Homo sapiens: one gene and its partners. The protein of the gene in region 1 purifies or fractionates together with the protein of each later gene. This does not show direct contact. Each region holds a gene or a part of one and is shown on either strand. Other genes may lie near its edges. The genes, in order: ALKBH5, USP53 and EPN3.

Evidence for each region.
Region 2: the proteins of ALKBH5 (region 1) and USP53 purify together in Homo sapiens (affinity purification with mass spectrometry, with the first as the bait; one large-scale study listed by BioGRID). This does not show direct contact.
Region 3: the proteins of ALKBH5 (region 1) and EPN3 fractionate together in Homo sapiens (co-fractionation; one large-scale study listed by BioGRID). This does not show direct contact.

What each region holds. Positions count from the first base shown.
Region 1 is NC_000017.11:18,190,209-18,193,856, forward strand, and holds part of ALKBH5 (RNA demethylase ALKBH5), read left to right. Parts: intron 1-3,648.
Region 2 is NC_000004.12:119,268,070-119,271,717, forward strand, and holds part of USP53 (ubiquitin carboxyl-terminal hydrolase 53), read left to right. Parts: intron 1-198; coding exon 199-351; intron 352-1,621; coding exon 1,622-1,768; intron 1,769-3,226; coding exon 3,227-3,648. UniProt on the Homo sapiens protein: Deubiquitinase that mediates 'Lys-63'-linked deubiquitination of tight junction proteins, such as MARVELD2 and LSR, and which is involved in the survival of auditory hair cells and hearing.
Region 3 is NC_000017.11:50,531,339-50,535,598, forward strand, and holds the start of EPN3 (epsin-3), read left to right. Parts: upstream 1-1,396; 5' UTR 1,397-1,647; intron 1,648-4,260.

The DNA of each region.
Region 1 (3,648 bases):
GACCGTCCCCTAGAGGAGAGATGTACAGTCCTGCATAGTTTCTTTAAAGAATTTTTCAGGGCCAGGTGCGGTGGCTCATGCCTGTAATCCCAGCACTTTGGGAGGCCAGGGCGGGTGGATCACCTGAGGTCAGGAATTCAAGACAAGAATGGCCAAGATGGTGAAAGCCCGTCTCTACTAAAAATACAAAAATTAGCCGGGCGTGGTGGCAGGCACCTGTAATCCCAGCTACTCGGGAGGCTGAGGCAGAGAATTGCTTGAACCCAGGAGCTAGAGGTTGCAGTGAGCCAAGATTGCGCCACTGCATTCCAGCCTAGGCAACAGAGTGGGACTCTGTTTCCGAAAAAAAAAAAAAAAAAAAAAATTTCAGACACCTCATTTAATTTGCACCTAATCTTCTGAGGAGGGGCTTGCTGTGATCTTTGTTTTGCAGAGGCAGAAACAGGTTCTAAGTGGTAGAATAGTTCAGCTCAACACACATTTCATTTAGTGTCCACTGTGCAGGGATGAGTAAGGCCTTTGAAGAGCTTTGTCTTGAAGGGAAGACACAATTTCCACAAGGCCAGATGGAATAGCAAAGAGGCATGAGAGGGTGTGGTTGAGCAATGTAGGGGGAACCCAGCCTGGGCAGTCAGGGAAAGGCCCCCAAAAGAGGAGATAGACATGTCAGCTCCTTCGAGAGTCACTCTGAGGTATAGGACTAGTGGGTGACATTTGCAACATATACTGGTCAGTGCCTCTGGGGCTGGGGCTGGGGGCTCAGCCCAGAGAGGGAGCAGGCAAGCCAGATGGCATAAGGTTATTTCCTCTTCTCCTTTCCCTGTGAAAACAAAAAAGCAGGAGGTCCTGGAACTTTTCATGCCAGCAGTAGGGCTGGACCCAAGGGCATATTAAGTTGCAAGCTGGCCGACTGAGACTTTCAGACAATTTATTTTGTAGCAAGTAGGTTCCTTAATAGTAAATAATACCCTGTGGTCTCTGCTCGACATTTTGTGAGATTGGCCAGGAGAGCTTCCCTTAATCAGGACTTTGAGCTCATGTTGCCAGAGCAGCCGGATATTCTGAGGAAAGGGTCAGTGGGCTGTGTCATAGCTGCTAGGAAGTTCTAGAAGACCAGTACTAATAAGCCTTCCAGGTTGGGTCAGTGCCAAAGTCATTTTTGTGGGCCTGTGCAGCCCTACCTCCATACTAGTTCTTCCAAGGCCTGGGCTCCGTGGCAGGAACCTGACATGGCTTATTGTTTGTTCTAGAGCCCTTTGGGGGATGGGGTCAGGGAGCATGCGGGCAGTCAAGCTTTGACAAACATCTGGATTTGCTCCAGAACTGCATTAAGAAAAGTGGTTCCTTGTTGGAGATGGGAAGTCAGGGCCCTTGGTTATGCATATAGCCAAGTCAAACAGATTGATAACACTTGTCAATGGCAGGGAAGGTTGCCTGTAGCCAGCACTGCAGATTCAGGACTTAGAAACGTGCCTCTGGGGCCGAGCATGGTGGCTCACACTTGTAATCCCAGCACTTTGGGAGGCCGAGGTGGGTGGATCACGTGTGATCAGGAGATCGAGACCAGCCTGGCCAACATGGGGAAACAGTCTTCACTAAACATACAAAAATTAGCCTGTAGTCCCAGTTACTTGGGGGTCTGAGGCAGGAGAATTGCTTGAACCTGGGACGTGGAGGTTACAGTGAGCCAAGATCATGCCACTGCACTCCAGCCTGGGCAACAGAGTGAGACTCTGTCTTTAAAAAAAAAAAAAAGTGCCTTTGAGACCTTTGACAGCTCTTTGGGAAAGTATTGTGTGTCTATATGGGACAGTCTTGCAGTCTAGACCCCCATTCCCCCAGTGTGGAATGATAAAAGCATGGGATGAGAACTAGAGTTCCTAGCTCTGGAAATGGGGCCCAGGCGGCCCCCACTACTGGCAGATCCCTGCAGGGGGAGCCCAGACCATGTCTCTTTGGCAGATGCTGAATCCAGGGCTCTGGCTTGCCCCAGGATAGTCCAGGGCCCTCTGACTTTTGTCAGAGTGCTTAGTAAAGATTGTAGGGTGTCAGGCACCCTGCATTATCTGACTTAATTCTCGCAATACCCCTGCAGGTAGGCCTCTCACCACCCCTTTCCAGGAGTGTCAACCAAGTAGTCATATAATGCTGTTTTTCTGCCTGGAAGGGAGGAGGCCCCGTTTTTAAAATCTTGTAATCTTAAAAACTTTAATCTTGTAATCTTTAAAACTGTCCCCATTTTTAAAATCTTGTAATATTAGTAGCAGCAAAAGAATAGCTAAATTATAAAGCATAACAAAATGAATACCCAAGAACCTACTGTTCTCCTTATTACAGATGAAGAAACTGTACAGGTTTTTAGGTTCAGCATGTGATTTAACAAAGGTCACAAAGCTAGTAGGAGACAAAGCTCACATTTGAACCCAGGTCTCTTCAACTCACTAACTCCTGTGTGGTACTTCTCACTGTGGGCTGATGGGTATTAATAGGTATTATGAGAGAAGGTTCTTTGGTAAGTGCTCAAAGTCAGTGGGTTCTTTTGCTGTAGTAATTCTCATGTGCTTTAAATATATTAATGCTTTTTGAAACTCTAATCAGTATTTTACAAATTGATTTCACTGTAGACATTCGTCCACTGTCTTTTTCTTTTTTTTTTTTTTTTTTTTTTTGAGACGGAGTCTCACTCTGTCACCCAGGCTGGAGTGCAGTGGCACTATCTCGGCTCACGGCAACCTCCACCTCCCAGGTTCAGCGATTCTCCTGCCTCAGCCTCTGCGATAGCTGGAATTACAGGCACCTGCCATCATGCCTGGCTTATTTTTGTATTTTTGTAGAGACGGGGTTTCACCATGTCGGCCAGACTGGTTACGAACTCCTAACCTCAGGCAACATGCCCACCTTGGCCTCCCAAAGTGCTGGGTGGGATTACAGGCGTGAGCCACCGTGCCTAGCCTGTCTACTGTCTCTTATGGGACTGGTGTTCATGGAGAAAATTTTGAAAAATTCTTGTCTAGGAGCAGCTTGAGGGAGAAGGTGGATCTATAAAATAAAGGTTTGGGCCGGGCGCGGTGGCTCACACCTGTAATCCCAGCACTTTGGGAGGCCGAGGCTGGCGGATCACGAGGTCAGGAGTTCAAGACCATCCTGACCAACATAGTGAAACCCCATCTCTACTGAAAATAACAAAAATTAGACAGGCGTGGTGGGGTGCGCCTGTAGTCCCAGCTACTTGGGAGGCTGAGGCAGGAGAATCGCTTGAACCCGGTAGGCAGAGGTTGCAGTGAGCCGAGATTGTGCCACTGCACTCCAACCTGGGTGACAGAGTGAGACTGTCTCAAAAAAAAAAAAAATTAAATAAAATAAAGGTTTGTTCTATCCCCAGCATGAGCTCAAATCAGATTTCCAAATCAGAGGTGCTTCCTTAAGGCTGAGCCTGAAGCAGTCTGGCTTTTTATCTCTTGTTGGCTCTTGCATCCAGTTATTAGAGCTGAGGTTTGGCCAGCCTGGCCATCTTGAGGGGTCCTTCCCAGGCCTGCAGTGTTTTTAATAGTTAAGTTTGTGTCTGTACAACTAGCCTTTGAGAAGGGAGCTGATCAGCAGCCATGAGAGAAGGGTTTGTGGTACAGGGCCAGGTAGGGAAACTAAGCC
Region 2 (3,648 bases), on another chromosome or scaffold:
GGCAGCAGAATGGCGTGAACCCGGGAGGCGGAGCTTGCAGTGAGCCGAGATTGCGCCACTGCAGTCCGCAGTCCGGCCTGGGCGACAGAGCGAGACTCCGTCTCAAAAAAAAAAAAAAAAAAAATCTGAAAAAAATGATTCAAACATCTCTTCTCATGGGAAGGAAAGGAATGATACATTTTTGCTTCTCTTTTTAAGGATGTGAAAAGCCTGTAATTCATAAGTCAGATAATTTAAAAGAAAATGGATTTGGTGATCAGGCAAAGCAGAGAGAAAATCAGAAATTTCCAACTGATAATATTTCATCATCTAATCGGAGCCACAGTCACACAGGTGTAGGGAAAGGACCAGGTATGTGTTTAAATTGTCATTTTTACATAGTTCCAAGTGAGTGTCCTCCTTTCTTCACTTATCGGAGGATGCTTACCTAGCTTTCCTTGGCTGTGAAAAGATAATAACAAATAGATAACAAAATTCGTCTTTTGATTTATGCATTTCTCTGAGAGCTGTAGTTTTACCTGACCAGTTTGATTCCATGAGTTGTTTGAGTTTCTTCATGCACTCAGACTGTGGTAGGCCTGAGGCAATCTGGACAGTTACCAAATAAAGCAATAATGTGGCATTTCATTCAAGGAGTTAATTATCAGCTTGGAGCAGAAAAACATGAGTTAGTAATTTGGCATAAATGCCAAAATTAAATTTACTGGTAGTGAATGCAACAGCAGTTCAAAGTTACTATTGCTGTAGTTTGTTCTTAACCTCGTTTTTATTCAACTCTGTCTTGTTACTGTTATCCCATAACTAATTTTTACAAGCCAGGTTCTGTAACTTGGGTCCAGAATGAAACCTCACAATACTGTGTACCATTACAGTTTAGAAATACATCTAACTCTTGTGTGGATGTTCAGGATGATTTTGTTAGCAACCTTTAAACATATTAATGAAATAATGTGTAATCATAAAAGTAACTCATTTAATCAAGGGTAGTAAGATTGAGAATTAACAGTTATCCACAAAAAACTAAAATAAAGGCTTTTTAAAAATTCTTAATGAAGCTGTATCTCTTTTCCTTTCACAGATTATTGATACTCTTAGATTCAGACATTTTATGTTTTTCAAAAGACACCTAGTTTTAAGCCCAGAAATAGTATATATGTGTGTAAGAATAGAAGCATTGGAACAAGACAACTTGGGTTCATATTCCTGGTTCTAGACTTACAAACTTTGTGAACTTGGGCAAATTTCTAATTTCTCTCTGCCTCAGTTTCCTTACCCAAAATAGAGACAGTAATTGTACCTCAAAGAAGTAAATGAGTAAGACAACTGGCAAATAGTGACCATTCAGTTACCTTTAGCTCTTATTATTTTAATGGCAGATCTCTTTCTTTTTTTATACTTGTTTTAGGGGCTATACAAGGAGTTTTAAAATACAACATGCATCTCCAGTGTCAAGAAAAATCACATCTAGTTTTTAATCATAAAAATACCATTGTATACTATATATCTACATATCTATGCTCTTTTTAAATATATCTTAACATTTTTATATAGATCAATTTTTATTTTTATTGGGCAATTTGAAAAATGATCTGTATCATAGTAAGAATGATTTCTTTTACAGCTAAGTTAAGTCACATTGATCAAAGGGAAAAGATAAAAGACATTTCCAGAGAATGTGCTCTGAAAGCTATTGAACAGAAAAACTTACTTTCTTCACAAAGGAAAGATTTAGAGAAGGGACAAAGAAAAGATTTAGGACGACATAGAGGTAAGTTAAGATCTTGTACTATTGATTTTAAAAGGAACTTCTAAAAATCTTATTTTAAAACTGAATTTTATAACTTTAATTTCTGTATATGTTAAATAATATATATTAAAAATACATAAATATATAAGTTAAATATATATACCTATATCTAATATAGAAATATATAAATTACATATATTTCTGTATATGTATAAATATATAAATTATATATAATTTATATAGTTTATATATAGAAATTAAATTATATTAAAGTTATTTTTAATAACTTTATTTTGAAGAGGTGAGAGTTCACTCTTGTCCAGCCTAGAGTGCAGTGACACAATCATAGCTCTCTGCAGTCTTGAACTCCTGGGTTCAAGCTCTCCTCACGTCTTAGCCTCCTGAGTAGCTAGGACTACAGGCACATGCCACCACACCTGGCTAAATTTTAAAAAGTTATTTGTAGAGATAGGGTCTTGCCATGTTGCTCAGAGTGGTCTTGAACTGCTGGCCTCAAACGATCCTCTTACCTCAGCCTCCCAAAGTGCTGGGATTACAGGGGTACCCAGACCTATTATATTTTATATATTTATTAATATGAGTTCTTTAATACACCTATACTAAATCTAAATATGCAAAATATCCTGGTTTGTTCTTAATTCTAACCTGGGATACTTGTATATATGTGTTTCGATGTTTTAACTTACTTACAGATATAATTCACTCATGGCACATTCAAGTAATAAGGAAGTTTATAAAATTAAGTGAAGGGACTCCTTTTCTGGCAATCCCTGACCTTCCCCCTCTTTACTTAGTATTTCCATTTCCACATTATAAGCATGTCTCTTTATGGTTCTATGCTTTTTTCTTTATGGACAGAGCATAATTTAACTGATAGTGATAGACTTTACAGGCTGATTTAAGATTTTTGCTTCAGCAACATCTTTTTTCACACATACCTTTATACGTTTTTGCCTAGAGCCATAGCATAAAATTCCTTCAGAGGAATTTCTGGGTCAGGATATGTTTACTTTTAATTTTGACAGATGTGGCTCAGTTGCCCTCTTGAAAGACTGAACTAGTCTGCACTCCCACCAACAATGATTGGATGTCTGTTTGTTCACACTCTCAGCAACAATTGGTTTAACAAACTTTTAAATCTTTACCAATATAAGAAGTGGAAAATATTTTTATGATTTTTGTTATGAGTGAGATAGAGTGCTTATTTTTTTAAAAACTGCCTCAATTATGATCTACCTTAGAGATCATTTTTTGAAGTTTCTTTTACAAATACCCCTCATTAAGCATACACAAGGACTGGAAAATCACTTTTTAATCTCAAAGCAGTATGTGATATGTACTTGTAATTACTATTTACCTAAAACTCTTTAACATTTTATCTCTAACAGGTATTTGCCTTGTGACTACAAGGTGGCTCTGAGGAGTAATTCATGTGTATCTTTAATTTTTTTTTTTAAGATTTGGTTGATGAAGACCTTTCACATTTCCAATCTGGATCACCTCCTGCCCCAAATGGTTTTAAACAACATGGGAATCCACATCTATATCATAGTCAAGGAAAAGGATCATATAAACATGACCGAGTTGTACCTCAGAGTCGAGCTTCTGCACAAATAATAAGTTCAAGTAAATCCCAGATTCTTGCTCCAGGAGAGAAAATAACTGGCAAAGTTAAGAGTGACAATGGCACTGGATATGACACAGACAGCAGCCAAGATTCTAGGGATAGAGGAAACAGCTGTGATAGCAGCAGTAAAAGCCGGAACCGAGGTTGGAAACCTATGAGAGAAACATTAAATGTTGATAGTATTTTTAGTGAAAGTGAAAAAAGACAGCATAGTCCAAGACATAAACCAAATATCAGTAATAAGCCTAAATCT
Region 3 (4,260 bases), about 32 Mb from region 1:
CTGGACACCCTGGTGACTGACCTGATGGTCCTGGCTGATGAGCTCAGCCCCATAAAGAATGTCGAGGAGGCTTTGCGCCTCTGCAGGTGACTCTCGGGCCCAAGCAACCTTCTGGAAAACGGGTTAATAAATAAATCAATAAAGAACCTTCAAGTTTCTACTACTTCCGTGTGCCTCTGTGTCTTGCATGATGGATCTTGGCTAGGTCAGCTCCTGATCCAGGTCCTCCCATGTTCCACCTGCCCTCAGATCCCCTCCTGCCAGCTGCCAGAGCCCTCCTGCAGGAGGACAGACAGACATAGCTGGGGAAGTGATGTGTGGGATGCCAAGCAGAGGAGCAGATTGGTAGCAAGACAAGGAGTCAGGTGACAGGACAGTGTGTCACCTCTGGTAGTCCCTGCCTCTGGCTTCCTTGGCCCACACTTTCAGGGTCGTGCTTCCTGGAGCCAGGTCTTCCCGAAGTGTCATCACCAAGTATGACAAAGTGTGAGATGAGGAGTAGAACTAGACCCATGGGACCTGGCTCCCTGCCATCTCCCCTCTTCAGCTGGGTCCCAGGGCCCCAATTCAGTCCCTGAAGATCATGCTCACCACACCTCTTCAGCTCTAGAGGCCACATCACCTTGTTATTTCGGGGTCTAGTCTGCCTTATCCCCCTCCTCATCTCAAACTATCTGGCCTTGAGCCATCTTTCTGCCTTAAAAACAGCTGCTGATCTTCATGCTACCTCCCTTGCTCAGGGGAACATGAAACAGGCTAGAAATGGCTCTCAGAAAAAAAGGTATTGTCAGCTCAAACTCAGGCCCCTCATTGTCTTCTGTCAGTCATAACCATTTGGGGCTGGGCTCCCTGTGTGAAGAGCACTCCAGGCTCCCAGAGTTTGAAGAACAACTTTGGTTTTTGGGTGGGTGGGCATCCTTAAGTGGGCCTCAGGCATCCTCCAGCTGAGATGCAGGAGGGGGAGGATGGACAGAAGGATCTGACTCCGTGTGGGAAAGGCAGGGAGGGGGCTGTGCTGGAGTCCTGATGCTCTCCTCCCCAAGAAGACGAGAAGACGGGGGCTCCACCAAAGAGCCAGCCCCAGGGAATGTCCCTGCCCTCTCCTTTAATGTCCTCCCGGCCCAGAGGAGGAAGGGGAGGGGTGTGGTGGGGGTGTTGGAGCCCCCCTCCTTTCCTGTTGAAGAGGCAGGGGAAGGGTTAACTCAAAGCAGAGGGGATCAGGTCGCCAGCACTGGCTCCAGATGTGCACTTCCTGGGGGCGGCCAACAGGCAGGCCCCCCACCTCTCAATGCACCACTTGCCTGGCCAGCAGGAAGGGGTTAACCTGCCCTGCACTTCCTCCTGTGTCCTGTTACTGCTGAGGCAGACCTGCCGGGCCAGCTGAGCAACTTTCCTCGGAGTGCTGCCTGGCGCTGGCTAGGAGGCAAACGCACGCGGGAAGAGCTGCTACCCATTCCAGGGACCCTGCCGCTGCCCCTCTGAGGGGTCTGCACCTCCTGGGAGCAGGTGGGTCTCTGGGACGAGGGTCCATGGTGGATGGCTCTGGAGACGCTCCCGAGGCTGTGCCGTCCCGCTGCTGCACAGGTCGGAGGGTCACCGCAGAGGCTACTCGGGCTGGGGCTGGGGCCGAGGGAGCCCGCACTGGAGGTAAGCTTCCTCCCTGGCCCCCTCCCTGGCAGTGGCGGCATGGAAGGCGGGGGTTGGTGGGGAGCAAACAGTGGTTCTGGGGCTTAGTCTCTTTTCCAGGTGCGAGGGAGAAGGCTGAGCTGTAGAGGACCTAAAGGCTTCTTTCCTGCCACCCCTCCCTCCCTGCCGCCCCCAAAAAGGGACTCAGGGCCCCCTCCCCAACCATCCTGGGACTTAGCATCTTTGGTGGCATCTTAGCATCTTTGGTGGCATTCCCCACAGACTCCTTCTGCACATCTCTGCTGTTTCCTCTTCTTCAGCCCCTCATGCACACCTCTAGCCTCAGGGCAGTCCCCCCTCCCCCATCTTCTGTGCTCCCGGGATGCAGCTATTACAGTGGCCAGAAGCTTAGAGTTCAAGCTCACCCCCTGTCCCTTACAGCATCAAGAAGGGCACTGTCATTCCCCACTGCTCAGGCTGGATCTGACTTGGAGGCAGGGGCTGGAGCCCACCTTAGCAGAGGACGGGAAGAGGGTGTGGGCTGGGCTGGTGGGTGCACAGACTTTACGCAAACTCATGCACGTGTGACTGGACAGATCTGGGTTCTCTCCATCTCTCCGAAACCCTTGCTGGGGATGAGCGATCTGCATTTTTCGGTCCTGACTTTTGGGAAACTCTCCAGATCCCCCCATCCTGCAGGCCCTGAGAAGAGCAGCCCCTCCCTACTGCGCAGTTCTCCTTGGGACCCTGTATGCAGGAGAGAGCTGATACTCCGTGCCCCGTGGCCCATCCCACCGCCTGCTGGCCCTGCTCCCATCCCCTCAGCTTCCTCCCTCCTCTGCCCTCTCGTCATCTCTGAATTCTCAGGCCCTGCCCTCTCTGTGCCCTTCCCTCCACCTGACAGGGTCTGGCTCAAGGTCACTGCAGTAATTCCATACCCAGCTGCCCAGGGCTGCTGCTGCTACCGCCACCGCCTTATCGGCCGCTGGGTTTCTGTTACACTCCCTTTTATTTCTGGGCATATCGTGTTCGATAAAACCCTTTGCTTGTAACACTGCTGGCAGCGCTCCCAGCTGCTCCCTCCCGCGTTCCCGCGTTCCTTCCTTTCCTCCTCCCTTCTCTGCGCTTGGGCAGGCTTCTTCCTTTCCTCCTCCCTTCTCTGCGCTTGGGCAGGCTTCTTCCTTTCCTCCTCCCTTCTCTGTGCTTGGGCAGCCTCACCTTGTCCCCTCAAACTCCAGAGAAGGAAAATCAAGGTGCCTCCCCATGTTTCTGGCCCCGCCCTTCCCCCCAGCCCCTGCAGGGGTGTGCAGAGAATGCCCACCTTCTGTGAGAAAGGTCCAGGCAGGGCCGCTGGGCCCACACCGAGAGTCCCCTCCCAGAGGCTGGTGCCCCCACACAGGCCAGGCCGGAGGGCCAGGGCAGCCAGGTCCAGGTAGGGCTCTGGTGCAGTCACAGTGCCCGACTGGTTCTGCTAGTTCCAGCGGCCAGCCGGTAGGGGCGTGTGCTGGGCGGGCTTTGGTGCACATTATTTCCCATCTTGACTCTGCCACCCCCAGCCACGGGTTGGGGAGGTGAAGGCAGGTCTGAGTCACTAGCAAGGGGGAGGGCAGGAGTTAAACAAGTTGTGGCCGTGGCATTCCCACAGAAGGCCCACGACCCGCTGGAAGGAAAGAGATAGCAGACAAAAGGTAGGCTGCGCTGTGGGCCAGGCACTCTCCACCTCGCCCACTCCCACGGTATCTTATTCTCTGGGCCCCCAACAAAACCTGCCAAGGCATGTTTTCAAAGCGTGGGGCTGCTTTGAACTGAGCCCAGCACTGGCGGGGCTGGGGTGGAAGGAGCGTGGAATCGGGTGCGAGAGGACAGTCTCCTTCAGATTCCTGCTTCTGGCAGCCTGGGGACCAGTTGGGGCACGGGCTGGGATGGAGGGTGGAGCCGAAAGGTGTTTGGTGGGTGGGGGACAGTTCACGGGTGAAGTGGAGGCTCTGCAGGCCCAGACAGTGTGTGTGTGCATGCACACACCAGTGCTAGTGTGGGAGGAATGGTGGTGGTCAGGGAATTCCTCTTTTGGTTTCTGAAAGGGCCTTTGGGAGGACCTTGGGCCTGGAGTTGTATTCAGCAGATAGCCTGGACCTGTGGCTACTGGGGGGAATTGGGCTGGCCCAGCTCTTCTCCCTGCTGGGGTACCAGAGGTCCACTATGTGTCCAGCGTTTTGGGGCTTTGGAGAACCCAGACTGTTCCTACTCTCAGGGAGCTTCCATTCTAGCTGAGAAGGTGGGACTGAGACAGTAAAGCAATCCGATGAAATAATGACCAAACTGGGTAACACTGACAATAAGAATTGGATTAGTCTTCTGGAGTCCTGGATGGTAGTCCAGGCTCTGCCACTTACGTGCCATATGATGCAGGCAGGTCCCATCCCCTCTCTGGCCTCAACACTTCCATGTGTACGTGGGGGTGGCATGCAGGAGTGTTGGCAGTGGCCAGAACTCTGAGGGGCAGTCTTCCTCAAACGATACTTGCTCTCTTGCCTTCTGGCCCAGGTCATAGCATTTCTTCTGAGCCGCCCTCCCCTGACTTGCTGGTTCACTCCTCCTTACTCTTCCCTTGTGATCTTGGATCTCAGCTCTGTC